Homo sapiens: one gene and its partners. The protein of the gene in region 3 purifies or fractionates together with the protein of the main gene of each other region. This does not show direct contact. Each region holds a gene or a part of one and is shown on either strand. Other genes may lie near its edges. The genes, in order: KATNIP, IFT80, IFT27, CHP1, SDF4, IFT172 and CLUAP1.

The links.
Region 1: the proteins of IFT27 (region 3) and KATNIP purify together in Homo sapiens (tandem affinity purification; one large-scale study listed by IntAct). This does not show direct contact.
Region 2: the proteins of IFT27 (region 3) and IFT80 purify together in Homo sapiens (affinity purification with mass spectrometry; 2 studies listed by BioGRID and IntAct, with this or other methods). This does not show direct contact.
Region 4: the proteins of IFT27 (region 3) and CHP1 purify together in Homo sapiens (co-immunoprecipitation; one large-scale study listed by IntAct). This does not show direct contact.
Region 5: the proteins of IFT27 (region 3) and SDF4 purify together in Homo sapiens (co-immunoprecipitation; one large-scale study listed by IntAct). This does not show direct contact.
Region 6: the proteins of IFT27 (region 3) and IFT172 purify together in Homo sapiens (affinity purification with mass spectrometry; 2 studies listed by BioGRID and IntAct, with this or other methods). This does not show direct contact.
Region 7: the proteins of IFT27 (region 3) and CLUAP1 purify together in Homo sapiens (affinity purification with mass spectrometry; 3 studies listed by BioGRID and IntAct, with this or other methods). This does not show direct contact.

What each region holds. Positions count from the first base shown.
Region 1 is NC_000016.10:27,748,913-27,753,164, reverse strand, and holds part of KATNIP (katanin-interacting protein), read right to left. Parts: intron 3,582-4,252; coding exon 2,859-3,581; intron 1,447-2,858; coding exon 1,241-1,446; intron 1-1,240. UniProt on the Homo sapiens protein: May influence the stability of microtubules (MT), possibly through interaction with the MT-severing katanin complex.
Region 2 is NC_000003.12:160,389,226-160,392,725, forward strand, and holds part of IFT80 (intraflagellar transport protein 80 homolog), read right to left. Parts: intron 1-3,500.
Region 3 is NC_000022.11:36,758,670-36,762,921, forward strand, and holds part of IFT27 (intraflagellar transport protein 27 homolog), read right to left. Parts: coding exon 4,235-4,252; intron 1-4,234. UniProt on the Homo sapiens protein: Small GTPase-like component of the intraflagellar transport (IFT) complex B that promotes the exit of the BBSome complex from cilia via its interaction with ARL6. Not involved in entry of the BBSome complex into cilium. Prevents aggregation of GTP-free ARL6.
Region 4 is NC_000015.10:41,275,740-41,279,551, reverse strand, and holds part of CHP1 (calcineurin B homologous protein 1), read right to left. Parts: intron 786-3,812; coding exon 663-785; intron 217-662; coding exon 163-216; 3' UTR 1-162. UniProt on the Homo sapiens protein: Calcium-binding protein involved in different processes such as regulation of vesicular trafficking, plasma membrane Na(+)/H(+) exchanger and gene transcription. Involved in the constitutive exocytic membrane traffic.
Region 5 is NC_000001.11:1,225,502-1,229,753, forward strand, and holds part of SDF4 (45 kDa calcium-binding protein isoform 2 precursor), read right to left. Parts: intron 3,446-4,252; 5' UTR 3,293-3,445; coding exon of another isoform or gene 3,272-3,292; coding exon 2,967-3,271; intron 1-2,966. UniProt on the Homo sapiens protein: May regulate calcium-dependent activities in the endoplasmic reticulum lumen or post-ER compartment. Isoform 5 may be involved in the exocytosis of zymogens by pancreatic acini.
Region 6 is NC_000002.12:27,447,914-27,452,165, forward strand, and holds part of IFT172 (intraflagellar transport protein 172 homolog), read right to left. Parts: intron 2,184-4,252; coding exon 2,085-2,183; intron 1,888-2,084; coding exon 1,778-1,887; intron 1,650-1,777; coding exon 1,586-1,649; intron 1,468-1,585; coding exon 1,381-1,467; intron 1,119-1,380; coding exon 1,002-1,118; intron 10-1,001; coding exon 1-9. UniProt on the Homo sapiens protein: Required for the maintenance and formation of cilia. Plays an indirect role in hedgehog (Hh) signaling, cilia being required for all activity of the hedgehog pathway.
Region 7 is NC_000016.10:3,517,586-3,521,837, forward strand, and holds part of CLUAP1 (clusterin-associated protein 1), read left to right. Parts: intron 1-2,317; coding exon 2,318-2,451; intron 2,452-4,252. UniProt on the Homo sapiens protein: Required for cilia biogenesis. Appears to function within the multiple intraflagellar transport complex B (IFT-B). Key regulator of hedgehog signaling.

The DNA of each region.
Region 1 (4,252 bases), on a different chromosome or scaffold from region 3:
CCGCTTTCCTTAGATGTGGGGAGGGGGAGGGGCACGCACTCCCCAGCTGCCTGTGCCTCCCCATGCCCTGCTCCTGCACCCCATGCTCTGCCTGGCTGCGAGGTACAATCCCCAGGGAACACCATGGGGTCCACACGACATGTTGCTGTCCTGCCTCAGTCATGACCTTCCCACAGCCCAGCCCCATCCCTTGTGGCTTGTGTTGTCCCCATTTCTCCCCTACCCTGTTTAACCATCTCCTCTTTTTCCTATTGGTCCTGACTTGAATTGACCTTGAAGGTCATCTTTCATTTTAAAAGATTTGTTTATCTGGCTAAGTGTGGCGGCTCTTGCCTGTAATCCCAGCACTTTGGGAGGCCAAGGTGGGAGAAGCGCTTGAGTCCAGGAGTTCATGACCAACCTGGGCAACATAGCAAGACCACATCTCTACAAAAAATAAAAAAAAAACTAGCCAGGCATGGTGGCATGCACTGTAGTCTCAGCTACTCAGGAGGCTGAGGTGGTAGGATTGCTTGAGCCCCGGGAGTTTGAGCTGCAATGAGCTATGATCACGCTAGTGTACTCCAGCCTGGGCGACAGTGCCAGGCCCTATCTCTAAACAAAATAAAAAAATAATAAGTTGCTTACCAATTAAAAGCATAAACTGTGGAATCACGCATTCAAGTTCTACCCTTGTTTCTCTGTCACAATGTGCCCTTGGGCAAGTCACTTGACTTCTCTGAGCATCAGTTTCCGAAATGGCAATGTTAATAGTCTCTACTCAGAGGGTTGTCATGAGGGTGAAACAAGAACACTGTGTACCCTGCTTGGATCATGATATGTGTTCATGAAACCATGGCTGTGATGATCATTATTTTAACTGTAACTCTGCCTATGAAAAGCATTCCTAGTCCTTCCATCAAAAACAACAGTGAATGATCAAAACGCAACCCCAAGCAAAAACTCCCCCCAGACTGCCAACCTCTGAATTGCAGAGATGACACAGAGCTCATTTCTCCTGGCTTTGATTAGAATTTGAATACTTTCTTTACTTCGGTTAAAAAAAAATAAAAAAATAAAAATAATTAGAGAATGAAATATGACATAGAGGACAAAAAAACAAAGTAGAAAGATGGGAAATGTCAACACAGTGGCACCAGCAGCTTAAAGGATATCCATCTTAATTCTCCCTGCTCTACTCTGAGTTAGGGGAAGAAACCTATCTGGGGGTCCCCCCACAGCCCCCCAGCTCCAGTCCTACCCGTTCATCAGCCCCCAAGCCAGCCTGGGTGAAGGGCCGCTCATCCCCCTCGCCGTCGGCCGTGCTGGGCCTCCTCATTGCCTCTTCATCCTGCAGGCTGTCCAGGCTCCCCACATCCAGGTCAAACATCTCATCAGAATAGAATATGGCCTCGAGAATGTCATCATCGGTTGTGAATAAGATCGTGTCTCCAAAGTGCTCTGGGGCTAATGGGTTATCAAGATGACAGAAAGGTCAACTCACTTCACATCCCAGAGATTTGTAGATCAAGAGCCTAAACCCATCCACTTCTGTGCTGTACAACCCCACACCCTTAACTGGTATTGATTAGTGTGAGCCTTATTAGTCTTCACAGATTTGCAAATGGAATGCACGGACCATAAGCATCACATGGATCTAAGGAAGGGATCTAATTTCATGAGAATCACTGTGATATGTCATCAGGCAAGTGACATTTCTTTGGGGTGGGCAAGGCACTATGCAAGACGCTGTTGGTACCCCACCCAGATCTTGGTGGATCCTTTTCTCAGAGTGCCTTGCCTGGAAGGGTGTGGGAGTTACAGCTCCAACCCGGCAAGCCTTGGTTCCAATGACTGCCTGGTAGGTGGGGTTCTAACGCCCTGCTCCTTCACCTTCAGGCAGGAAAGACCTGAAATTTATGTTCCAGACCTCCCTCAAGATCTGGTTGTGGCTGGGCTTCCTGGAAACTATATCCTTGCTTCACTATGCCAGGTTTCTCCTAGGAGCACTCCCTCCATAAGTCACTTGCCAAAGAATGCCCCATCTCAGACTCAGGTTCTAGGGGCCGGACCAAGACAGGTGCTTTATGGGAGATGCTGAATGAGGTCAGGCCTAGCACACTCATGCTGTAAGAGGGGATGAGTGGACCGGGTCTGTGGCTGGGTGCAGGGGCTCATGCCTGTAATCCTAGCACTTTGGGAGGCCAAGGTGGGTGGATCACTTGAGCCCAGGAGTTCGAGACCAGCCTGGGTAACATGGTGAAACCTCGTCTCTACAAAAAATACAAAAATTAGCCAGGTGGGTTGGTGCACCTGTAGTCCCAGCTACTTAGGAGGCTGATGTGGGAGGATTGCTTGAGCCCAGGAGGTCGAAGCTGCAGTGAGCCGAAACCATGCCACTGTGCAGGGCAAGATCCTGTCTCCCCACCCAAAAAAAAAAAAAAAAAAAAAAAGGGCTGGGCGCGGTGGCTCACGCCTGTAATTCCAACACTTTGGGAGGCCGAGACGGGCAGATCATGAGGTCAGGAGATCGAGACCATCCTGGCTAACATGGTGAAACCCTGTCTCTACTAAAAAAAAAAAAAAAAAATACAAAAAATTAGCCGGGCGTGTTGGCGGGTGCCTGTAGTCCCAGCTACTCGTGAGGCTGAGGCAGGAGAATGGCGTGAACCCGGGAGGCGGATCTTGCAGTGAGCCAAGATCGCGCCACTGCACTCCAGCCTGGGGGACAGAGCAAGACTCCGTCTCAAAAAAAAAAAAAAAAAAGAAAGAGAAAGGACTGATCTGTTGTTGGCTAGCCAGCTGGTCTGTTTTTTCCCATAGACTCTCAGCAAGTCACAGATAGGGGCTCTGAGAAAATTCTTACAGACACGCCATACCTCCCGCCAGGGTTCCAGAGGCCTTGGCGATTTCTCCTTCAAAGATGCACTGGGTGTCTAACAGCATTGTGATGTCCTTCACGCCTCGGAAGGAATGTATCCGAGATTTATTGTAGTTCCAAATTCTGATCAGGGCAACGTGGCAAGGGTGCGTGAAGTCAATGGTGATGGAGTGGGATCTGCCCCGCGTGAAGGGGGCCAGCCAGACATGCATGTCATCCTGGGTCCTGTTCACCCCGTCGATGAGGTTGGTGACCACGCGGGGGTCTTTCCCATAGGCTGGTAAAATATTGATATCGGGAGGGTCTGCTTTTATGTTTGAAATCTGCACCGGTTCACCCTTGGAACTGAATATTTCTATTCCGTTGAGGCCGACATAGTGTCTGTCCCCCCAGGTAGACTTGATGTCAATGACCAAGCGCTGTCCATAAGGCAAGACGGGGATTTTAAAGTCACCCCCAGCGTCTGTCTCTCCAGAGTAGCCATCCTGCCCTCTCGACAGCCCTGGCTGCTCCCCCTTCTTGGAGGGGGGCAAGTCGCTGTGCCGGCTGCTCTTTTGCTGCAGGAGCTCATCCAGGATGTCCCCCGGGAGCTCCGTGTTGGAGATGCGTCCCCGGTGGGAGCGGTCGAAGGCACTGAGGGAGCTCCATGACTCGTGAAGTGTGTGCTCCTGCTCACTGCGCCACCTTGACCGTGACGGCGTCCTGGAAGACCAGGTGTCTTCTGGAAGAAAGGACACAAGAGGGGGGAAGCCCTGTGAGTGGCATGTGTGGAAGTGGGGACCATTAGAGACTGTCTCCTGTGGTGGCTCTCAGTGAGGCAGGGCCACCTCCAGGGGAGCCCTCTAGAAACCAGCGGGGTTGTTCCCGGCTGTCTCCTTAGCCAAGAGGCCTCTTGGCACTGGATGGCTGGGGCCAGGCATGTTACCATCCTGCACTGCATGGGGGCCCTGGCACAGAGCTTGGTCTCCTGTCCCACACAGCTTCTGACTGTCCTGTGGGCCATTCAGGTCGGTAAAATAATTGTCTATGATCACCCAATTCCAGAATCTGGTTGTTTTTGCAAAAACACAAAGCATTTTTTCATAGACTGAATTTTCTAAGAATGCAATCATCGTGTGAACCAAGGGAAGACTACTTGGCTGTGTTAGAAACTTTGCCAGGAGTCGCTCCCCACTGTAGAAACTCACATGACCAGGGGCAATGCTGCTGCCTGAGGCGTCTGAGTCAGCCACAAGAGGGTGTGTGCTGGAGACTGTCACAGTCACGTGACTCTAACGGTGTTTTCAAAGACAATTTAATGGCAGGTGGAAGGTTTGTAAAAGAACGTTAAAAGGAAAAAGCCAGATACGCAGCTTTAAATGCAGCATATCCTGGTACGGGTGACATGCACCC
Region 2 (3,500 bases), on a different chromosome or scaffold from region 3:
ATAATTACCCTTTTTCTAAATAGATCTCATAATGATTTTCAGTCATCTACTTAGATTTATATAGAAAAATGGTGATTGAAATCATCCTTAAAAAATGATTTTCAATTTTTTATTATTATTATACTTTAAGTTTTAGGGTACATGTGCACAATGTGCAGGTTAGTTACATATGTATACATGTGCCATGCTGGTGTGCTGCACCCATTAACTCGTCATTTAGCATTAGGTATATCTCCTAAAGATATCCCTCCCCCCTCCCCCCACCCCACAACAGTCCCCAGAGTGTGATGTTCCCCTTCCTGTGTCCATGTGTTCTCATTGTTCAATTCCCACCTATGAGTGAGAATATGCGGTGTTTGGTTTTTTGTTCTTCCGATAGTTTACTGAGAATGATGATTTCCAATTTCATCCATGTCCCTACAAAGGACATGAACTCATCATTTTTTATGGCTGCATAGTATTCCACGGTGTATATGTGCCACATTTTCTTAATCCAGTCTATCATTGTTGGACATTTGGGTTGGTTCCAAGTCTTTGCTATAGTGAATAGTGCTACAATAAACATACGTGTGCATGTGTCTTTATAGCAGCATGATTTATAGTCCTTTGGGTATATACCCACTAATGGGATGGCTGGGTCAAATGGTATTTCTAGTTCTAGATCCCTGAGGAATCGCCACACTGACTTCCACAAGGGTTGAACTAGTTTACAGTCCCACCAACAGTGTAAAAGTGTTCCTATTTCTCCACATCCTGGACTTGTTTCAAAGGGACCAGGAGATTTTAGACAGGAAGGAGAAACAGAATCAACTGTCCAGATACAGTAACGAGAGATAAAACTCTGACATATGGGAGTTTGGGAGGCAAAATAGCTTCTACTTGAGAGATCTATAAGAAAAGCAGTTTCCAGGGACAGGCATGGTGGCTCATGCCTGTAATCCCAGCACTTTGGGAGGCCGAGGCGGGCGGATCAGCTGAGGTCGGGAGTTTGAGACCAGTCTGACAAACATGCAGAAACCCTGTCTCTACTAAAAATAAAAAATTAGCTGGGCATGGTGGTGCATGCCTATAATCCCTGCTACTCAGGAAGCTGAGGCAGGAGAATCGCTTGAACCCGGGAGGCAGAGGTTGCAGTAAGCCGAGATCGCACCATTGCACTCCAGCCTGGGCAACAAGAGTGAAATTCCGTCTCAAAAAAAAAAAAAGAAAAAGAAAAGAAAAGCAGTTTCCTTAGGAAACAACCAGATTTAAGTTAGACTTTGAGAGTAAAGGGATCATTCAGAATAAAAGTGGAGGACTGATTTGGCTAATGACACACAGTGAGTTCCAAAAAAACTTAGATGGTGAAGAACTAATGGTTTAAGATAGATGGTTGGAGATGGTAGAAACAGCTGGCTATCCTGCAATATCCATTCATCCCTGCTTCTGTGGTATGAATTTGAAGTTTTGCTATACATCTGGCCACCTAGAACAAAGACTATGTTTCCTAGCTGCCCTTGAAACTAGGTGTGGCCACACAAGGCATTAATAATACTGAAACCAACAGTGGCTATTATAATATCATCAACCTACTGGCCCAATCTGGATTTTATATTCTGTGAGGGGTAGAAATGAGGTAAGAGGCAGGACTCAACTCCGGAGGCAGAGCTCAGACACGGGACCAGATTGGGGACTGGCTAAAACACAGAAGAGGTGAAAGCACCTCTCTGTAAGAAATGCCTATCAGTATGCCATATCAGTTTACTATTGCCATGGTAACACCAGGAAGTTACCTGTTTTTCTAGAAATTTCTGCATAGCCCACTTCTTAATTTGCATATAGCTAAAAGTGGGCACAAATATGACTGCAGAAGTGCCTATGAGCTGCTCCTCTGGGCACACTACCTATGGGGTAGCCCTGCTCCGCAAGGAACAGTACCTCTGCTGCTGCTATACACTGCTGCTTCAATAAAAGTTGCTGTATAACACCACCAGCTTGCCCTTGAATTCTTTCTTGGGCCATCCCAAGAACACTCCTGGGCTAACCCCCAGTTTTGGAGCTTGCCTGCCCTGCATCAGATATACTGCCCAACAGTAATAGTACGTACCTAAGTTCACATTGCCTAATTTCACAGTGAGTTATCTAAGGAACCCATTTCATTACTTCTTATAAACGTTACATAAAATTGCCCGGCACAGTGGCTCACGCCTGTAATCCCAGCACTTTGGGGGGCCGAGGCAGGTGGATCACAAGGTCAGGAGATCGAGACCATCCTAGCTAACACAATGAAACCCCGTCTCTACTAAAAATACAAAAAATTAGCCGGGGTGGTGGCACACACCTGTAATCCCAGCTACTCAGGAGGCTGAGGCAGGAGAATCGCTGGAACTCAGGAGGTGGAGGTTGCAGTAAACCGAGATCACACCACTGCACTCCAGCCTGGGCAACAAAGAGAGACTCTGTCTCAAAAAAAAAGTTATATAAAATCACAGCATAATTGGCAAATAAAAACTCGGAAGAGTGACACTCCCCATGCCATGCCATCAAGGCCATGTATAACACAGCAAGATAAAAAAGAGCCAAGATTTCTGACCTTGTGGAAAGTCACATCAATCCTGTACCATCAAAGTTTTAAGTGATAGAGAATAGTTGCATCGTATTTAAATTACTGTCATCAACAGCTAATCCTAATAACAAACTAATGCAGGGAATTATCTTGAATGTGGAGACTGAGGTAAACAGGGATGTAAGGTATGACACAGTAGTCCCAAATGTCTCTTGAGAAAAGGTGGCTAATCAATTTAAACCATAGCCTTCTTGGAACTGCTCTCTTAGGCAGCATTGATACAGACTTTCATAAGGGAAAAAGGGGCAGTCCTCTAGCAGCATATGGAACTATGTGGGATTTCTTTTCAATCTTGATAAGGGTGTTGGCATTTACTTCACTAGCAGTTTAAGGAGGGAAAGGAACTACAGAGAATTAGAGGGAATAACCAAATGTTACTTTCTCCTAATATCCCCAGCCTTAAATGGTAGGCTCAGTCCTTGTGCCTCTTCTGTATCTGCACTCACTGCCATGGTGAACTCATCCAGTTTTATAGCTTAATATGAATGTAAATATATTCACCATATAGTGACAACTACTAATTTCATATTTCTGGTTCATACCTCTCCACTGAACCCCACACTTTTATATCTATTTGACAACTCTATTTGAATGTCTAACAGACATTTCAAATTTAACAAGATCCAAATCAAAACCGTGATTTTCCCTTCAACTTTGCTCCTACCACATTCTTACCCATCTTGGTAAATGGCAATTCCATTCTTCCAGTTACAAACACCAAAAACTTAAGTCATCATTTACTCTTCTCTCACATACCAAATCCAACTTGTAAATAAAAACATTTGTTGGCTTTATCTTCAAAATGTAAAATATTTCACCGCCTCCACTATGACCGCAATCCAAGATGCCATCTTCTCTTAACCAGAATTACTACAGCAGCTTCCTAATTAGCCTC
Region 3 (4,252 bases):
TTCTACAAAGCCTGTGCTTTTAGTTGCAGTCACTGTACGTGTGACGAGATGTGAAAATGACACCTTTCCTCAGTTTTGACTGAGGCTCCAAAGGCCAAAGCAAAATACCAAGGAACCTGGAGCCCCCCATCCCGAAGAAGAGCTAGACAGCATGGGGCACCCTCTTCCTAGGCTGGTGCTGGACCCAGGCCTGGGAGGAATCGAGGTGAGGTGGTGGCTGGGCAAGCCAGGAGAGGGCTACCAATGAGACGGCCTCGCTGCCTCCTTTGTCAAACTAAACGGCTGCAGCAGCACTTCCCTGAACCAGCGGGGGCCAAGTGGAGCCAGCCTGGTGCTGTCTTAAGGGGGCTCGGCTGGGACCGCCTCCAGGAGGGTGACGGGTCCCAATAAGAATGAACAGCCAGGAACTGGGGCTGCAGGAGGAGTGAGGGGGGACCACCTGTGAGAAGCAGCCTGCAGGTGAGACAGCGCCACTGATGGGGTGGGGAGGGGCATCTCAGAGGCGCCCATGGGGCACCAGCCGGATCCACCCAGCAGGTGTGGAGTGGGCCACGACAGACCCCAGCAAACACGCTGCACTCCTGGCTCCGGTCTCTCCCTCCCGAAGACTGTGAGAGGAGGTGCCACTTTAAATCAAGTTCAGAATTTTGACAATCACCCAGGGCTGGGCACTTTAATACCTGAAATCGTGAATATCTTTGTGACTAAAGGAGCCCAAAAGAATTTTTGTTACCTGAGAGAGAAAAGAGAAGTTCAGGAACTTGCCCTAGATTTTATCTAAGCGGTGGAAAAAACGGGCCCCTCCAGGGTGCACAGGGACAGGCTGGAGGGCAAAGGAAATGGCGCCCTCTCTCTTAACAGCCACTCTCACTCTGTTGGGTGCACGTGTGCATTCAAAAACTTTCTCAGAAAAAAGTTGGCAGAAAAAGGAATGTACTACTTTCAAGACAGCAGCTCAAGCTATGAATGCACTAAGAACCTGTTTTGAGACGATCCCTGGCAGCTGGCAAAAGTGCAACCTTGAGAAGAGGCCGTGAAATATCCCCAACGAAACAGAAGGATTTCCAAACTGAAGAACGTTGCAGAAGGCATCAAGCGCGGTGCCTTCGCTTCACAGATGAGTAGTTTGGGGCCCAGCGGGTGAAGCGGCCCAGCTGGTTGGTGCAGAGCCCAGCCCAGCATCCAGATTCTCTGATTTGGGAAGAGCTACCTTTCCTCGAGGCCAGCTGGGATGTGCGAAGGAAACCAGGTCCCGTGGAGAAAGTTACCTGGACTTTCTAGCAAGGGAAAGCCTAAGTAAAGAAAACAGTTGGCCAAGAGGAAAGACAGTGGTGGCAATGCTGAGAGAGTGCCGAGGAAAGAGTGGAGAGTTTGTAGCCAAGACGAACATTTATAGTAAGCTCCCAACAGCCAAGGACTTGAAAGCCATCACCGTCCAGCTGGACACGAGAGCAAGAATTCAGTACATCCTGCCGGGCCCTGCTAGTTGTGCAGAGCACAAGGTCCTAGGCAAGCCAGTGTCGGGGTAAAACACTGCTTCCGTCGAAAGTAGAGTTAAGAATGGAATGGAAAAAGACTGAGGCCTGCATAGCGCACGCACGGGGATTTCAAAATGGATTCGAAAACACTCCACAATGCAATCTTGGGAGATCGCAACATAAAAAGGAAGGAATTCAATGCAGGTGAGCCTCAATAGACACCACGGCGTGCTTCTGAAATAGATGAAAATTGAACTGTTTTCCAAATACTTTGAGAGGGTTACCAATGACAGGAATCCTTTCGTCTGATCACTAATCATCATCTCGCTTACACAGTCAGGACAGCTGTGGAGTAGGTCGGCTTAGAGGGATTCTCAGGGCAGGTTCAGGCTAGTGTTCAGTCTGGCCTTGAATTGTGTTCTGCAGAGTCCCACAGCAGGCTCCGCAGGAGGCCAGGGTACCCCTTCTAGAAAACCCAAGTTTTCCAGCTGGACAGGCCTGACTCCTAGTCCTGTTTCTAGCCCTCGTTTAACTATGCAACCAGGGCAAGCTACACAACCTTTCTGAGTCTGTCATCTATACAACACAGGAGTGTTACCTTGTAGGGCTGTTATGAAGCCTAAACAAATAATGTGTGCAAAACACCTAGCACACAGTAGGCCCTCATCAAACGTTACTTCCCCACTCCTCGCTTGCCTGGGAGGGCAGTGATCAGCGCGGATTGTTCTTGCACTTGTTTGTAGGGACCTCCTTTGGGTAGGCAGGATGGTCACTGCGGTGTTTAGGCAGAAGAGAGGAGGAGATGAGCTTGGCGCCAGCCCTTGGCTGCGTCTCAAGCTGCGTTTGCTTATATTTCCTTTTTAATTACAGCTTTCTTAACCGAGCTGCCAGCGGTGCTTCTGTGAGCCTCAACTCAGGGGGGACTAGTTAACTTGCACAGATAATAGCAAGTGCTTACTGCAGCCTCTTCAAGAGTAGTTCACACCCACCCACCCACTTCAACACCTCAACAGAGTTTAACCCGTAGCCCACTGGCCTTTGGTGACTCCTGTTTTGGAGGTTGGGGTGGGTTTTAATTTCTGAGTTCTATCAAGCGTTCTAGGGAATATGGAATATTGGGGTGCAGGGACAATTTCACAAATGAATGGAGGAAGGGAGAATACTGAAATCCTGTTTGCTAGGGCACTACCGCCTACTGCTTTGCACAAAGGTGTGCTGCAGAAAAGATGGCAAACCCTCTATACAGGAAAAGCTGATTTGGGCTTCATTAATTTAGCATTTGTGATAATTGGACCAGAGGCAAGGGTGATATTTATCTCTGCACAAGCCATGAATACAAGGATTTAGTAAGTAATAACAGTATAAACAAGATTCTAGGGGTAATATTTATACTTTAAGAAAGCTAACATCTACTGAGTGTTTACCAGGCGCCAGACTCTGTGATCCATGTTTTATATGCGACATATTACTTGATTCTCATATTTATTACTCGATAAGGGATGTATTTTATGATCCTCACTTTACAAGCCTGAGCCACCAACAGGTGAAATAACATGTCCAGGTTCCCACGGCGAGTTCTGCCACTCACCATGGGAGGTCAGAGTGCCTGCCTTTACTGCTGTACTTTCCCTAAGGAAGCATGCTGCTTTGGGGGAGTTTTATAAGCTCGGACGGCAGCACTGGTCAAGGTTCCTAGATGCAATAGCAGAAGTGCCTAGAGCCAAAGTCAAGCTGGAGCAGAAGATGACCTCCAGAACATTAACCAGCCCATGACTCAATTCTGAGGGCCACAGAATCAGGTCTAAAGGCCACAAGGTGAGGTCCAAGTTACGACCATGACTGTGCCAGGCCTGGTGATCTCCCCAGCTAGCAACCCTGGCGAGGGGCAGGGCAACCAACACTCGGGCCCCTGCTGGCTCTGAGATGGATGTTCAGGGCCACACCTGTTCCTAGAGGGCAGATCATCACTTCATGCCCTTCCTAGTGGAGTCTCATGTGAGGGGTCTGATTGGTGCAGCCTGGGTCACATGGCTGCATCTTGGCCTCAAGGAGGATGGGACTTTAAAACTCCCAAACACAGGAAGCAGGTTCCTCAGTGCTGGACAGCTAAAATCATGATACATTAGGTTGGTGCAAAAGTAATTGCAGTTTTTGCCAGGAAAAGTGTACTGAAGACGCTGAAAATCACTTGCTTTTTGTAATGAGGTCTTCTGCTCTTTTAACTGGCAGGCACTTTGTGGCCTGGAGTCACCCTGGGGCTGCAGCAAGGTGAGGATGGGTGGTACCGATGGGAATTAGAGGCCATGAGTCCTAATCCTGGCTCCACCCTTCGCTAATCATGGGACCTTGGACAAGTCACTTGAGCTCCTCAACACTGGAATGGGAGCTGTGGGGCCAACTTCTGGTTCACAGGACTGGTTGTGAGAGCCACATGAAACAATGTTCCAACAACATCTGAACCCAGAATATTGCATGCAAACGTCGAGGGTCATGATCACCGCACACAAAGCACTTGTATTTCTTACTAGTTGAGATACACCTTTTCCCAGGGTTGGCTGGCTGATCTGCTTTCCTGTTATGTCTGAGCAGCTACTGCTATACTGAGAAGAGATCTCGGGTAAGAATGTAAACATCAGTTCCAAATGAGACTCTGCATATGGTGGAATAACAGCTCCCTGCACGTGAGGTCATGTGCAAGACCGCTGCCAGCAGAGGCCCACTCCAGACTTGGCGACGAGGCAAGTGGAAATACTCACCACGGATGTTTCAAAACA
Region 4 (3,812 bases), on a different chromosome or scaffold from region 3:
CAAAGGCAGGTTTGTGTTGACAGAACATATTTGGGGTTGTCATGCAACAGCAGTAGTACTTTGGGAGAAGGGGAATGAGGGGGTGGAGGTGGAGTTGGTAGAAGGAGGACTTTCAAGTTCCAGTTCTTAAATACTAGACCGCAAGGAACAGTTTGGTCTCCTTTAGTGAAGAAATCGGATGCTCATTTTCTGTTCTACATCCACCTTCTCCAAAACCTGGGGGAGAAAACCAGTAACAGTTACAAAGGTTATGAAGATTACAACACTCCCAAGCTCTTATCTGAGTAATGTTTTCCCCCCTTCCTCCTGTGCAGTAAAACGTAACTTTTTTTTTTTTTTTTGGAGGCAGAGTCTCACTCTGTTGCCAGGCTGGAGTGCAGTGGTGTGGTCTCGGCTCACTGCAACCTTGGCCTCCTGGGTTCAAGCGATTCTCCTGCCTCAGCCTCCCAAGTAGCTGGGATTACAGGCACGCGCCACCACGCCTGGCTAATTTTTGTATTTTTAGTACAGATGAGGTTTCACCATGTTAGCCAGGCTGGTCTTGAACTCCTGACCTCGTGATCCGCCCACCTTGGCCTCCTAAAGTGCTGGGATTACAGGCGTAAGCCACCGCGCCCAGCCACTAAAACGTAACTTTTTCAAACAAGAAGTAAGTGACCAACCTTAACAAATTCTGTGAAAGATATGGCACTGTCCCCATCCTGATCAGCCTCCTGAATGGTCCTGTCTGCGATGCTGCCCAGCTGCTCATCTGAGATATTTACTCCGACCATCATGCGTAGCACCTGGAAGACCAAGAGCCAGGAATTACAAGGGCCTTGGGAATCAGAGGGACTCTTTACTAAGATTAAAAATAAAGCTATCACCATCCTCCTTTTCCTTTGATGCCCTCAAATACAGTCATGCACTGCATAATAATGTTTTGGTTAATGACCGACTGCATATATAATGGTGGTGCTATAAGATTATAATACTGTATTTTGATGAGAACACATAGACACAAAAAGGGGAACCACAGACACTGGGGCCTACCAGAGGGTGGAGTAGGAGGTGAGAGAGAAACAGAAAAAATAACTACTGGGTACTAGGCTTAGTACATGGGTGGCGAAATAATCTGTACATCAAACCCCCATGACAAGAGTTTACCTACATAACTAACCTGCATATGTAGCCCTGAACCTAAAAGTTAAATTTTTTTTCCTTTTTTTTTTTTTTTTTTGAGACGGAGTCTCACTCTGTTGCCCAGGCTGGAGGGCAGTGGCACGATCTCAGCTCACTGCAAGCTCTGCCTCCCGGGTTCACGCCGTTCTCCTGCCTCAGCCTCCTGCGTAGCTAGGATTACAGGCGCCTGCCACCGTGCCCGGCTAGGCTAATTTTTTGTATTTTTAGTAGAGATGGGGTTTCAGCATGTTAGACAGGATGGTCTCGATCTCCTGACCTCGTGATCCGCTCACCTCGGCCTCCCAAAGTGCTGGGATTACAGGCATGAGCCACTGCGCCCGGCCAAAAAATTTGTTAAAAAAGATTACAATACCATATTTTTACTGTACCTTTTCCATGTTTAGATGTAAGTATTTGTTTTTGGGTTTTTTTTTTGAGACAGGGTCTCGCTCTGTTGCCCAAGCTGGAGTGCTGGGTTGCGAATGTGGCTCACTGCAGCCTCACCTCCGAAGCTCAAGTGATCCTCTCACCTCAGCCTCCCCCAAGGAACTGGTACTACACTACAGGTGTGTGCAACCATGCCTTTTTTTTTTTTTTTTCCTGAGGCGGAGTTTCACTCTTGTTGCCCAGGCTGGAGTGCAATGGCACGATCTCGGCTCACTGCAACCTCTGCCTCCCCAGTTCAAGCGATTCCCCTGCCTCGGCCTCCCGAGTAGCTGGGATTACAGGGATGTGACACCACACCCAGCTAATTTTTGTATTTTTAGTAGAGATGGGGTTTCGCCATGTTGGCCAGGCTGGTCTCGAACTCCTGACCTCATGATCTGCCCGCCTCCGCCTCCCAAAGTGCTGAGATTACAAGTGTGAGCCACTGCGCCCAGCCACTTGGCTAATTTTTCAAAATTTTTTTGTAGGAATGAGGTCTCACTGTGTTGCCCAGGCAGGCCTTCAACTCCTGGGCTCAAGCAATTCTCCCTCTGCCACCTCCCAAAGTGCCGAGATTATAGGCGTGAGCCACCATGCCCAGCCACAGATATGTTTAGATACACAAATACTTACCATTATGTTACAACTGCATATAGTAGTCAGAACAGTAACTTGCTGCACGGGTTTGTAGTCTAGGAACAATAGGCCACACCACATAGCCTAGGTGTGTAGTAGGCTATACCATCTAGGTTCATGTAGGTACATTCTATGATGTTCCTACAACTACAAAATTGCCTAACATTGCATATCTCAGAATGTATCCCCATCTTTACCATCATGTGACTAAGTAACAGCTAAAAGGCTGAAACCTTTATCTTCTCATCTAGGCAATGATGTAAGCAGAACTTATCTAGGTGACTGGATAAGAAGACAAAGACTAAGGGAGAGTCCTTTGCATTTTGCCCTTCCTCATTCTTCTTACCTCATTCTGTCTGGTGGCACTGCAGCCACCCTGGAGCCATGAGGTGAGTAATATGAGCTATGGATGCCAGGGCAGGAACACAGAATAAGCCTGGTTCCTGGACATCAGTTAGGTACTGTACCAGCCTGGACAATCTATGCCAAACATTCTTGTTGCGTGAGCCTAACTAGTTCCTTATTGATTTAAATCAGTTTGGTGGGGCTTTCTGAAATCCCACCCAAAATGTCGTCCTCTTCGAAGTGCTGCATTAAGCCAACTATTCCTAAAGTATGGCCCAAGAAAACATAAAAATCCTTGAAGAGTTAAATGCTAAATCCCCTTCTGAGAAAAATAACAAGCACAATTAAAAGGCTGCGAGAATTGAGTAAGAGAATTTAACACTGTTTCACCAAATCTGTCTTAAACTTAACCAATCCTTGGGCCCCTGGGAATTCTATTAACACCTTTAGGGTGTGAACATACTTTGAAAATTGCTTCCTTAAACAAAATAAGCAACTTTAACAATTTGACTGTCAGGCAATATGGAAAGGCTGGTTCTTAGGCAATATGAAATGGGAGACAGGGTACCTTTCTGACTCCTTATATTATTATTGCAGTCAGCCACCTCTGTCTTCAGATGGCAAGAACTGAGCTTTTCCACAGAAAGGAAAGGGCCTCTAGCCCAGTGGCTCATAGACTTCCTTTCCTCCACTCCTTTACTCCCTTCTACAATCTCATGAAATAGATTCTTTTTTTTTTTTTTGAGATGGAGTCTCACTCTGTTGCCCAGGCTGGAATGCAATGGCACGATCTTGGCTTACTGCAACCTCTACCTCCCAGGTTCAGGCGATTCTCCTGCCTCAGCCTCTCGAGTAGCTGGGATTACAGGTGCCCAACAGCATGCCTGGCTAATTTTTGTATTTTTAGTAGAGACGGGATTTTGCCATGTTGGTCAGGCTGGTCTCGAACTCCCGACCTCAGGTGATCCGCCTGCCTCGGCCTCCCAAAGTGCTGGGATTACAGGCGTGAGCCACTGCGCCCGGCCTGTAATTTACTTTTTAAAAATCGATTTCATGGGCCGGGCATGGTGGAGAAACCCCATCTCTACTAAAAATACAAAATTAGCTGGGCGTGGTGGTGCATACCTGTAATCCCAGCTACTCGGGAGGCTGAGGCATGAGAATCGCTTCAACCCGGGAGGCAGAGGTTGTGGTGAGCCAAAATTGCACCATTGCACTCCAGGCTGGGCAACAAGAGCGAAATT
Region 5 (4,252 bases), on a different chromosome or scaffold from region 3:
ACGCGCCCCTCCCTCAGCAGCCGCAGCAGCCCAGAGGTGGACGGGCCTGGGAGGCACCCTCAGCTCCACAGTCCCCAAAACACACCGGCTGGGGACGGGGCCACCCGGGTGGCCATGTGGCAGGTGGGGCACCTGGTGGGTCTCACGTGGACACGTGCATCCTCGAATGCTCCGGTCACGCTCCACACGCGCCACAGACACAGGCCACACGCTCCACACGCCACAGACACGGGCCACACACTCCACATGCCACAGACACGGGCCACACACTCCACACGCTCTACACACTCCACAGACACAGACACACACGAGGCAGAGCAAAAAGCAAAAAGGTGGAAAGAAACCACATGGCGCAGGATTCCAGTCAAGATGTCGGCAAGGAGTCACTCATCCAAACTCAGGTGCCTGAAGACACGGCTGCAGGGCGGTGCACGTACATGGAGCTGGCACGCACACACGCAAGTGCACAGGCCGGTACCCACGTGTACACAGCACACACACGTGAACAGGGCTGGCAGAACACAGATGTGACTGGGCTGGTGCACACACGCATGTTATCAAGTTCTGGCTCCTGAGAGAACAAGGGCAAGACGCCCAGTGCCCAGACCCTGGCTTCCAGCTCCAGCCACGGGAGACAGGGCTTCCTGGAAAGGCGGCAGCTATTGCACTGGGGCAGGTGGCACGGAGGCGAGCCCAGAGCATCTCACCGTGCCAGGAAGCGGGAAGGAAAGCCTGGAGCATCTCGTGGTGCAGGGAAGCGGGAAGGAAGTGAAGCTCAAAAGCCCCTAGGACAGGGCACCTCCCCTCTGGATGCTCTTTCCAGAAACCCTCAACCCTGTACGGTCAGGAGGAAACATGGCACCTCCCCTCTGGGGGCTCTTTCCAGAAACCCTCAACCCTGTACGGTCAGGAGAAAACACATCCCACAAGCCCAAACTGAGGGACAGCCTAAAACCTCCTACCCAGCCCTTCTCAGAACTGTTACGTCCTCACAAAAACGGGAGAGTCTGAGACACCGTTCCAGCCCAGAGGAGACAGAGGAGACAGGACAGCTGAGTGAACGTGGGTCCTGGAGGGACGGGGCCCTACGCAGGAGAAGGGCGAGAAGGGACCCGCGTGTGGGAAGGGAAGTCTAAACACCCACAGCGGCCGCTGTCGCCGCTCGGCGCAGGAGTCAGGGAGACCCGGAGACCTGCTGTTACTTCCCACTCCCCATGCCCACCTCCTCAAACGAGACAGCTTGGGGTTTCGTTACAGGCACCAAAAAGAAACCCCGGTCCAGCTGGAGACGCACCGAGCAGAAGCCTCAACTCCCCTCGCCCAGGCGTGCAGCCCACCCCCAGCACCGGCTGAGCAGGGACGGGGACCCTTCCCCTGTGATGCCGCGAGCCAGGCCTTCGTGAGCTCAGGGGTGGTGAACCTGACAGGCCCCAGGGGCACCAGCAGCCTCTTCGTGGGTTGGTCAGCTCACCACCAAGTGAACTCAGGCCACGCAAGGACCCCCGAACCGTACCATCTGAGGAGAGGTGCAAGGGGACACCACACCTGGTGCCCAGGTCCTCCAGCTGGCACCGTGCCTCCGTCCCACCAGCTCACCTGTGCTCCGCCCGAAAGCCTGGATCCTCAGGGCCCTCCCGCCTGGCCCTCAGCCCAAGGGCCGTGGCACAGCCAGACCAGTCCTCACACCTTTCCTACCTGCTCCTGCACCCCAGGACCCCAGCCCTGCCCAATCCCCTTGCTCACCAGCTTTGCCACCTGCCCCTCTGCACTGGTCCTGGAGCACCAGGCCCGGCGGGAAGGCGAGCTCGTGGCCAGGCCCTGCGGGAAGGCGAGCTCGTGGCCAGGCCCGGCGGGAAGGCGAGCTCGTGGCCAGGCCCGGCGGGAAGGCGAGCTCGTGGCCAGGCCCGGCGGGAAGGCGAGCTCGTGGCCAGGCCCTGCGGGAAGGCGAGCTCGTGGCCAGGCCCTGCGGGAAGGTGAGCTCGTGGCCAGGCCCTGCGGCGGGGGCTGCCTCCTTGTGCCCAGGTCTCGCAGGTCCCAGGAGGCCCAGGGTGTTCTCTCACCTGCACCTCGGCTCCCTGCCCGGCACCCTGGCTGGCCTGGGGGACTCACGGGCACGCCCTGACCCTGCTCTGCCTCCAGGGGTGAGGCCAGCGCTGAGTGCAAGTAGGTTCCAGGGCCACACCGCAGGGCACCCCGGCCGTGCCGTAAGGAGTAAGGCGCCCGTGCAGGACCTGGCTCCTTGTGGGTGAGTGGTCAGGTTGACCCATCTTGGACCCCTCACAACAGGCTCTCGAGACTCAGGGATGGGGTCGGGGGAGAAAGCTCGGCACTAGGCACAGAGGCAGCAAGAGGGTCTCGGGACTCAGCAGGGTGGGGGCAGTGACGGCCAAGGATGGGCCACTGACAGCACAGCTCTGCTCCCGACCAGGCCAGCAAAACAAGCCAACCCCACACACCCCCAGCCTGCGTGTGATACGCGGCCCGTGTGTGACAGGGACCCCAAACACACAGGGTAGAGGGCGTGTCAGGAGGAGCCCAGAGCACCCTGTACCAGCTCTCCAGCCACCTGTGGCAGCCCCTCACTCCTCAGCCAGGCCTCGTCCAACTGGGGCTGCAGCCTGCGGAGGCTGCCCGTGGCCGGCGTCTGCCCCTCAGCATGGAGGACGCTGACCACTGCAGTGCCGCGTGGGCTCCTCCAGGCTGTCCTAGGGACGGCCACACAGGCCCACTCTGGCCCTCTGAGCCCCCGGCGGACCCAGGGCATTCAAGGAGCGGCTCTGGGCTGCCAGCGCAGGCCTCCGCGCAAACACAGCAGGCTGGAAGTGGCGCTCATCACCGGCACGTCTTCCCAGCCCGGCAGGTCCCGACACAGGGCCCGGCGCCCCCCACCGCGCAAAGCCAGGATAGGAACACACAGGCGAGCGCACGCGGACAGCCCCCCAGTCTGGGCACATGGCGGCACCTACTTGGAAAAGATGACCATCAGCTTCCTCCGGCTCCGCCGCGGCTCCGCGTCCTCATCAAAGCCACCCAGGTCCTTGCCTAGGAAGACCTCCTGGTGGAAGCCGCGATTGAGGTGCCCGTCCATCTCCAGCTTCACCCCGTTCAGGTGGTCTGGGGGCAGGATCTCATTCTCCTCCCTGTTGGCTACTCTCTCTCGAGTGGACGAGTGGTTGGCAGGCCGTGCAGACGCGTCCATCAGAAGGACTGCCCCCAGGAGCCAGAGGCAGCACGGAGCCAGGCCAATGAGGGGACCCCACCTGGACGCCATCGCCACCCAGGGCCAGACCATGGGGCGGGCTGCAGGGTGTGGGCCAGGTGCTGGGAGGGGCAGGGGCAGGGGCAGAGGAGGAAGTGAGGTCCTGGCTCCAATCCAATCCCCGGGCACCACGGAGGGCTCTGTGTCCCCAGGACGGCCGCAGGATGGGGACAAGCAGCTCACAGTCTGCAGAGAGACACAGACACATCATTAGCAAGACTCAGCAAAGACTTCCCCAAGCACGTCTATCCTGCAACATGAAACATATCCTCGATTCACAGGATCCAGACATGTGGCATCGCCTTCTCCAGACCACACGTGGCACTGCCTTCTCCAGACCACACGTGGCATTGTTTTCTCCGGGCCACACGTGGCATTTGTTTTCTCTGGACCACACGTGGCATTTGTTTTCTCCGGACCACACGTGGTGTTTTTTTCTTTATTTTTAGAAACAGGGTCTTGCTCTGTCACCCAGGCTGGAGTACAGCGGTGACCACAGCTCACCGTGACCACGAACTCCTGGGCTCAGGTGATGCTCTGGGCTCAGGTGATGCTCTCGCCTCAGCCACCGGAGCAGCTGCGACCACAGGCGTGCACCCCCACGCCCAGTAATTTATTTTTATTTTACTCTTTGTAGAGACGGGTCTCGCTGTATTGCTCAGGCTGGTCTCAAACTCCTGGCTTCAAGCGATCCTCTTGCCTCAGTCTCCCAACGTGCTGGGATTACAGGCGTGAGCCACTGTGCCCGGTCTTTTTTTTACAGACACTGAGTTTTCAGCCCTGTCTCTCCGTCTTTCCATCTCTCTCTCGAGCTGTCAGCACCTCCAGGGGCTAACCTGTCCCCATCGCCCAACACCTGCAGCACAGCTTTCCTGTGGGGCCCGGCTCTGTCCCTCCTGGCATCATGCCACTGACCCATGGGGTTAGGGTCACTCTCCAGACCCTGACTTGAACATTCTTGAGATCTATGACCTTAGCTAAGTCATGTGGCCT
Region 6 (4,252 bases), on a different chromosome or scaffold from region 3:
ATTGAAGTTCTAGAGGTAGAGGGAAGAAGGGGATCTGAGAAGGGCATAGCTAGAAGAGAAAGTCACTGGAAGTGGGGCCAAAGGGAGGAGAAACAGGCTTTGTGTGTAGAAATGGGTATGTGTGTGTGTGCAAGGGCTGGGGGACAGTGGCAGATTTTTATTTTTATTTATTTTTATTTTTTTAATTTTATTTATTTATTTTTGAGACAGAGTCTTGCTCTGTTGCCCAAGGCTGGAGTGCAGTAGCATGATCTCGGCTCACTGCAAGCTCTGCCTCCCAGGTTCATGCCATTCTCCTGCCTCAGCCTCCCGAGTAGCTGGGACTATAGGTGCCTGCCACCACGCCCAGCTAACTTTTTATATTTTTAGTAGAGACGGGGTTTCACCGTGTTAGCCACAATGGTCTCGATCTCCTGACCTCGTAATCCGCCTGCCTCGGCCTCCCAAAGTGTTGGGATTACAGGCGTGAGCCACTGCGCCCGGCCAACAGTGGCAGATTATTAAGTGCTGATTATTTTTAATGAAGTAAATTATTTTTAAGTGCTGATTATTTTTGATAAAGAGAAAAGAGGAAGAAATAACTTTCTTAGCTGGTGCTGTGTGAGTGTGGGCAACTGTACAAATGTAAATGCAGAGTCACAACATTGTGACTCAGATCAGGGAGCAGTGTTCATTCTCTGGAGGAAGTCAATAAAGGCCCTAGAGGTGTATGCAGGATTCATCTCTGAAAGACAGGTGCCTGTGTATTTGCTAACAGCATGGGGAGCTCCACGGGTGTTTCTTCAAACAGAAGTTGGAAGTTTCTGCAAACCTCCCCATGCTCTTAGCAAATACACAGCCTCCAGAGAGGCTGTACATTTCTGGAGATGCGTGGGGGGCTCTGGGCATGACGTTCTCTAAGGATAGAATCCTCTGAGAAGATAGTTCCTGAGAAGATAGGTGGTTCTAGAGGAGAAAGAGCTTTCTTGTGGAAACATTCAACCCAAGGAGAAGGCTGGTACCTGTGGGTTAGCAGGGGCTCCGTGCTGTACATACAGGGCCAATGCCTGGGCAGAGCTACCCTCCCGGATCAAGTGAGTTGCATACAAAGCCACATACTTGTGCAGAATCTTGTAGTTCTGTACAGGGGTGGAGGAAAAGCATGAGTGAGGCTGGGATCGGCAAGACCAAGCAGTGAGGTGACTTGAGGCCATGTATTTGTTGAGGGGAAAAAGGGTGTACGCAAACCTCTGACCCCAGTTTCAGACTGAGCTTCTCTGATGCCCATTAGAAATCTTTGGGCTTTGGGTTTTTGTGGAGGTAGAAGAGATGCATCTTTGAGGCAGGTGGGGAATCAAGGGAAAATGTAAAGAAAAACTGGGAATGGGAAGAGAGCAGTACCTGCTTGGTAGCTGTTTCAATGCACTTGTCCCACTGGCCCTGCTCCACATACAGGTCCAAAGCAGCTATCACATCCACACCCACCAGCTGGGTCAATGGAAGACAGAGTTACAAGAGAAAAGAGATGACATGAGGGAAAGAAGAGGGAGAGAGTCTTGTGAGTCTCTCCCTGCATTCTGCCTCCTGCTAACTCTCCAAGTCTCACCGAGTCCACTTTGCCCTGATTCTTGAGGAACTCTTTATAATGCTGGTCCACATAGTCTTCATACCTGTGAAGATGTTCAGAGAGCTCCATCTTCATGTTCCAGAATACCAACCCTCCCGGTAAGACTTTCTCCCAGTCTTTACAAAAGGAAGTAAAAGAGAATTTCGCAGTAAGAAGGGGTTACAAGCTTACCTGGGATCTAACTCCTTAGCTACACGCTTCGCCTTGTTCCACTCCTCACCCTCGATGAAAGCATCGATTGCTTCCTTGACAAGGTCCAGATTCAGATAGAGCTCTGCAGCCTGCACAGTGGGAAATCAGCGTGGAGACTTTCTCCTCGCTCCCAGTCTTCCCACTGTGAGCTCTCCCATCTGTTTCCCCAGGACTGCAAGCCATGCCCACCAGGAGGCCCACCTCACACACCTTCCTGGGTGTAGATGTCACCCTTGCACCCATCTCTGTGAAATCTATTTCTGTTCCATCTCAGCATCCTACTTACTGCACTGTGCTTTCCAATTCCAATCAGCTGGGGTCCTACAGCCAGAACGACTTCCATATTACGTTGGGGAGGCAGAAACTTGATGGAGAGTTCAGCTGCCTGAGTGGTTGAACAGAAGATGGAAATGGGTAGGAGAGACAAATACCGCTGAGTCCTCAGCCTCATCCATTTCATACATTTTTCTCCTCCAGATGCCAACTTTTTCTCTTACTCTCCCCTTCAACCTTGCACCCTCCTGGGCAAAACCTGGCTCATGGTCCATTAGATCCTTTGATTAGCCATCAGTGGACCTATCTTTCCTCTCAGTTCATTAACTCTTTCAGATACTTCCTGCGCTGCCTGAGGTCACTGCATTTGAAACTTCCGCCTTTGACAAAATCATTTTCAAGGTCTTTGTCATAAGTAAAATCTTCGTAGCAGAGTACAGAGAAAGGACTCCTAAAATAAGGAGTCCAGGGCATTCTGTAACTATTTGTGTTGGGCTTTTATGAACTTGTTTCTTCATTCACACACACTGGATTTTGAAGATTTAGTATAAAAAAAGAATGGAAAATATCTAAATAATGTGTGTGAGTACATGTTGAAATGGTAGTATTTTATTTAATTTTTTTAAGACAGAGTCTTGCTATGTCGCCCAGGCTGGAGTGCAGTGGCACAATATCAGCTCACTGCAACCTCTCCCTCCCAGGTTCAAGCAATTCTCTTGTCTTGGCCTCCTGAGTAGCTGGGATTACAGGCACCCACCACCATGCCCAGCTAATTTTTGTATTTTTAGTAGAGATGGGGTTTCACCATGTTGGCCAGGCTGGTCTCAAACTCCTGATCCTCAAGTGATCTGCCCACCGTGGCCTCCCAAAGTTCTGGGATTACAGGCATGTACCACTGCGCCCAGATGAAATGGTGTATTTTAGATATACTGTGTTAAATAAAATATATTACAATTATTTTTACCTGTTTTTTTTTTTTTTTACTCTTTTTAAATGTGGCTACTAGAAAATTTAAATGACATGTATGGCTTACATTTGTGGCCTGCATTATATTTCTAGTGCCAGTGCTGGTATAGATGGTCTTGATGATAACCTTTCAACACTTAAAACTCAGAAATTCTACAAACCCAAGTGTTCAATGAGATCACTCTGTTTCCATTATGATGCTGACATCCTTACCAGATTTCAATTTCCACACAATCCAATTTCACTGTAGTTTATGCTAATCCCCTCTGGTCTTTCCCTCACCTGTTCTTGCCTCCCTTTCTTACTGCCAAGCCCTTCAAAGCTTAATCTGCCCTGTCTGCATCAGGAAGCCATTTTCTGACTAATCTGAAAAAGGTACAGTCATGCCATGCTCCCAAGTTACATATATCAGATGCTTATTCAATACTGCTGATTAAAATCTGCTAGAACCTCAAAACCAATCATCAGCCCCTCTCTTTCTACTTCTCTCCCTCTAACTTCTAGGGGTTATTGAGTTTTAAGACCTCAAAAGGCCAGGCACGGTGGCTCACGCCTGTAATCCCAGCACTTTGGGAGGCCAAGGCTTGTGGATCATGAGGTCAGGAGATGGAGACCATCCTGGCTAACACGGTGAAACCCCGTCTCTACTAAAAAAATACAAAAAAATTAGCCCGGCATGATGGTGGGCACCTGTAGTCCCAGCTACTCAGGAGGCTGTGGCAGGAGAATGGCCTAAACCCAGGAGGCGGAGCTTGCAGTGAGCCGAGATTGCACCACTGCACTCCAGCCTGGGCGACAGAGCAAGACTCCGTCTCAAAAAACAAACAAACAAAATAAACAAACAAACAAAAAAACCTCAAAACCTAAGGGAAATTTTGCAGGGGCATCACCATACGAATATGTCATTTAGAGGGCCAATCTCACCCCCCTCATGACCCCCACTCACATTTCACTGTATCTAAGGTGCGTCATTTAAACTATACCTGCATCCCAATTTTAAATATATTAAAATATAATTATATATATGTATGTGTGTGTGTATATATATATATATATATGTTATTGTTAACTTTATGTATCAATTTGGGCTACAGGGTATCCGGGTATTTGGTCAAACATTATTCTGGGTGTTTCTATAAGTGTTTTTGGATGAGGTTAACATTTAAATTGGTAGACTGAGTAAAGCAAATTGCCCTCTCTACTGTGGATAGACCT
Region 7 (4,252 bases), on a different chromosome or scaffold from region 3:
ACAGGCATGAGGCATTGTGCCTGGCCCGCAGAGTACTTATTAATTACAGAGGGGAAAAGAGTCACTTCTCAGGGAGAAGCCTGCCAGTCACCCCCTTAATCAAGAGATCAAAGTGAACATCATCGTTACAGAACAAATCAAAATCATGCACGCCTGGTAGGATGCAGTCACTTCTGAGTATTCCTGCCAACGATGCATATCTGACTCTAATGAGACAAAGCCGGATTGAGGGGCATTCTACAGATTAACCAGCCTGTATGCTCCCAGAGTGAAAAGGTTCTGAAAGTCAAGGAAAGCTGAGGGGGCATTTCAGACTGAGGGAGGCTGTGGAGATGTGATAACTGGACACATAGGCAGCTCCTATCTGCTGTTGGGGACTTCACTGGGACAAGTGGGGACAGTGGAGTGGGGCTGGAGTTAGACGGTGGTAGTGTGTTAGTGCTGGCTTCCTGTTTTGATGATTGTATTGTGGGGATGTAGGAGAAAGTCCTTATTTGTAGGAAATACACGCTAAAGTATTCAGGGTATTGGAACGTCTGGTCAGCAACTTACTGTCACCTAGGTTGGGAAAAACGCTTTGTGTTGTACAACAGGTTTTCCGTAAATTTTTGATTGTTTCTAAATTTAAAAATTAAAAAAAAATTATTATACCTCTTATCCTTGCCAGTGTTCTAACTGAATCAGGTGAACACGGCATGAATGTGCCCTTAGCACTAATATGTTAAAAGTAGAACACCCAAGAGAGGACAGGGTTCATTTCTTGGTAGACATCTCTTAAGACTCCTTTCATTGTTAGAAAATATCTGTGATGTTTGATCATTCTAAAAACAACCAAAACAACATGGGTACTTAAAAGGGTTTGGGGAGTACAGGCCATTTATTTCAGAAACCAGGGAAAATTGCTTGTGTTTACACAGCTGTTTTGCATTGTGGATCTTTCTTGTTTGAGGAACAGATATGTTTAAGGTGGGATAAATTTACTAGGTTTTAATCTGACTTTGGTTCGAGGAAACAGTTGCCATTAACTGAAGTTGTTTAGAAAGGAGACCCACCTTTCTTCCTGTGAGGGTGAACTCGCATTTCTCCTGGGGGCTCTAAGGCACTTGCAGCAAATCGATGATAAGGGTCTGATTATTTTCATGAAAGTATCTTAGAAGTGGCTAGTGTACTTAGACCAAAAAAATTAGACCATAAACGCATTGTCAGTAACAGTGGCTGGTTCCAAAACACACCATGCCTGAGAGTTGTGGAGAGTGTCTGGGCTTCGTAGGCCATTTCTCTGTGGAGCCCATAGCTTTTCAGAGACTTGCAGGAAAACAGAGTAACCCCTTCGTGGGATGCTACACATAGGCAAAGAGCTGGAGGGGAAGCCCCACCTTGGCCACCAGGAACTTAATGCAGGGCTGGAAAGCCAGAACCCTGGGGGGCAGTTCCACGCTCAGCTGGGTGGCAGTCCAGATTCCTCATAAAGAGATTGGAGCCTGAACCCCAGGCATGTGATCCAGCCAGCCACCGGACAAGACGCATGTGAAGACGGCGCACTACCAGTGACTCTACCTGCTTCAAATGAACCTTCTCTTAGGATAGGGAGACTTGTGTCACCGTCAGTGGGCCCGTGTCCCCCTTCCCTTCTTTACTCAGCCTCTGTTGCCCAAGGGCCTCTGTCCAACTGTTGCCCTGGACCCCTTCCAGAGCTGGTGCACACCAGTGTGGCCATTGCCACTGTGGGAACTGCTTTCGTACTGTCTTCAGAGTGGTTTCTCCTCGTTTTTAGTCTGTAGTCAAGCTTCTGTTGCCAGGGAGAGGGAAGAGGACCTTCTCTCAATCCCAGCAGGCAGTGGGTTAGGGCTGGGACCAGCTGTTTCTTTCTCTCCCCTCCTAGTAGAGCAGTACTTGGTGTGTGTGGGTATTCTGTAAGTCGGGTGTTTGTAACTAGGGGCATGGCCCGAATGATAAAAAGGCAGACTGACCGTCCAGAGTGATGTGCACCTTGTTCTAACCGAGTGAGCCAGAGAAAAGACTGCAGGCCTCTCCACCTTGACCAGGACACTCTTCTTTGCATCTTCACTTCTTTCCCTGGGTAGAAATGCCTGCTTTTCATGGGGAAAAAAAAAGAGATACCTTTTTCTGGACCTGTGTGACATTCTCCCTGGAACTAGTGGGTTAAGTGAGTCATTGCTTGGGGAAGTGTCTATTTGTTTGCTTTTGTGTTTGTTGAGCATAATGTTGCTATGCCTGAAGAGTTGCAAAATTCTTCTAAGAATTAGGATGGCTGTTTTTATTGCCACCTTGTCTCATTATTTCCCATTAAATATAGACACAGGTTCAGAAGACTAAAGACCTGCTCAATAATGTGGCCTCTGATGAAGCTAATTTAGAAGCCAAAATCGAAAAGAGAAAATTAGAACTGGAAAGAAATCGGAAGCGACTAGAGACTCTGCAGAGTGTCAGGTAGATATGAACACTTGGAGAATGAGTAGAAAGATGTCCTGGAAAGTTCAAACAAACTGGGCGTGGTGGCTCATGTCTGAAATCTCAGCTACTCATGAAGCTGGGGCGGGGGGTTCTCTTGAGCCCAGGAGTTTGAGACCAGCCTGGGCAGCATAATGAAACCCCATCTCTAAAAATTTTTAAAAATTACCTCAGTATGGTGATACACACCTGTAGTCCCAGCTACTTGGGAGGCTGAGGCGGGAGGATTGCTTGAGCCCAGGAGGTTGAGGCTGCAGTGAGCTATGGTTGCATCACTGCACTCCAGCCTGAGCCACAGAACAAGGCCGAGTAACAGAACAAGGCCCTGACTCTAAAAGAAAAAAAAAGTTAGAACAAAGACTTAAGAGAATAGAATGTGATCTTAACTCTTCTCAAGCAATGAAAAAAAGCCTTACATAAGGGTATCTTCACCTCAAATGTACATGTGTTGCCTGTCATAACAAGCAGATGGCTAAACTCATTCTCTTTACTGCTTGCGGTATGTCTGGAAAACTGCTTAAAGCTTGAACTGCCCTTTAAGCTTTTATAGCTTCTTGGAACTCAAGGCAGAGTAAGTGAATCCAGACGGGGAAATCCAGACGTGGTCTCCTAAGATCTTGCCATAAATTAGGTAGAAACAGAAACATACTCCTGCCTGTTTGTTGGCATAGATTTTAGACTTTATTTAAACCTTGATCATTCCTCACCAGTCAGTAATTCATCTTTCTTCCTACGTTACCTCATTGGAAATATATTTCCCAGGAATACCGATGGAGAATAGTGGTGCCGGCTCTCTCTCTCTTCTCTTCCTCGTTCTGTGCCTCTTTCCCTCCCCCATGCTTCTGCTCTTTCTCCCTTTTCATTCACCCTTTATTTTTCTTTCTTCTTGGCTCCCTCCTCTTCCCAGCTGCCTACTCTGCTCGGATGTTTTGCCTTTTTGGATGTTGGTGGCTGGCTACACCCTGCCCACTGTCCCGAGGTCTGTGGGGAGGCAGCACCTGGAGGCAGCGACAGCAACCACAGGGAGCGCCCTGGCTCCTCCCTGCCCAGCGCAAGGCCAAGGCCCTTCCCCTCCTGAAACTGGCTCTTTACCTCTGGAGCCTCAGAGAGGGAAAAAAAAAAAAACAGAAGTCATTGCCGCCATATAGATTGATCTCCTTGACACATTCCACTTTTAAAGCATCAATTCATTTTTGTTAAGCTCCAAATCATTTTAACAGAAAAGTCTCTTTGTTTTGCTCTAGTTCAAAAGATTATAATTATTTCTGAGTTTATCTGCTTATATTTTTAAAAGAGTAGAATTTTCCCTTTAAGGTCAATAATAAGAAAAAAGAAAAAGTTCAGCAAACCAGTATAGATTTTTATGGTTTTTTTTGTTTTTGTTTTTTTTTTTTGAGTTGGAGTTTCGCTCTTGTTGCCGAGGCTGGAGTGCAATGGCGCGATCCCGGCTCACTGCAAACTCTGCCTCCCGGATTCAAGCGATTCTCCTGCCTCAGCCTCTCAAGTAGCTGGGATTACAGGCGGCCGCCACCACGCCCAGCTAATTTTTGTATTTTTAGTAGAGACGGAGTTTCACCATGTTGGCCAGGCTGGTCTTGAACTCCTGACCTTGTGATCCACCTGCCTTGGCCTCCCAAAGTGCTGGGATTACAGGCATGAGTCATCATCACGCCTGGCCTTTTTAAAAAATTTTTTATCGTTTAAAAACCTCTTTAGACTGGGCACAGTGATTCACGTCTATAATCCCAGCACTTTGAGAGGCCAAGGCGGGCAGATCGCT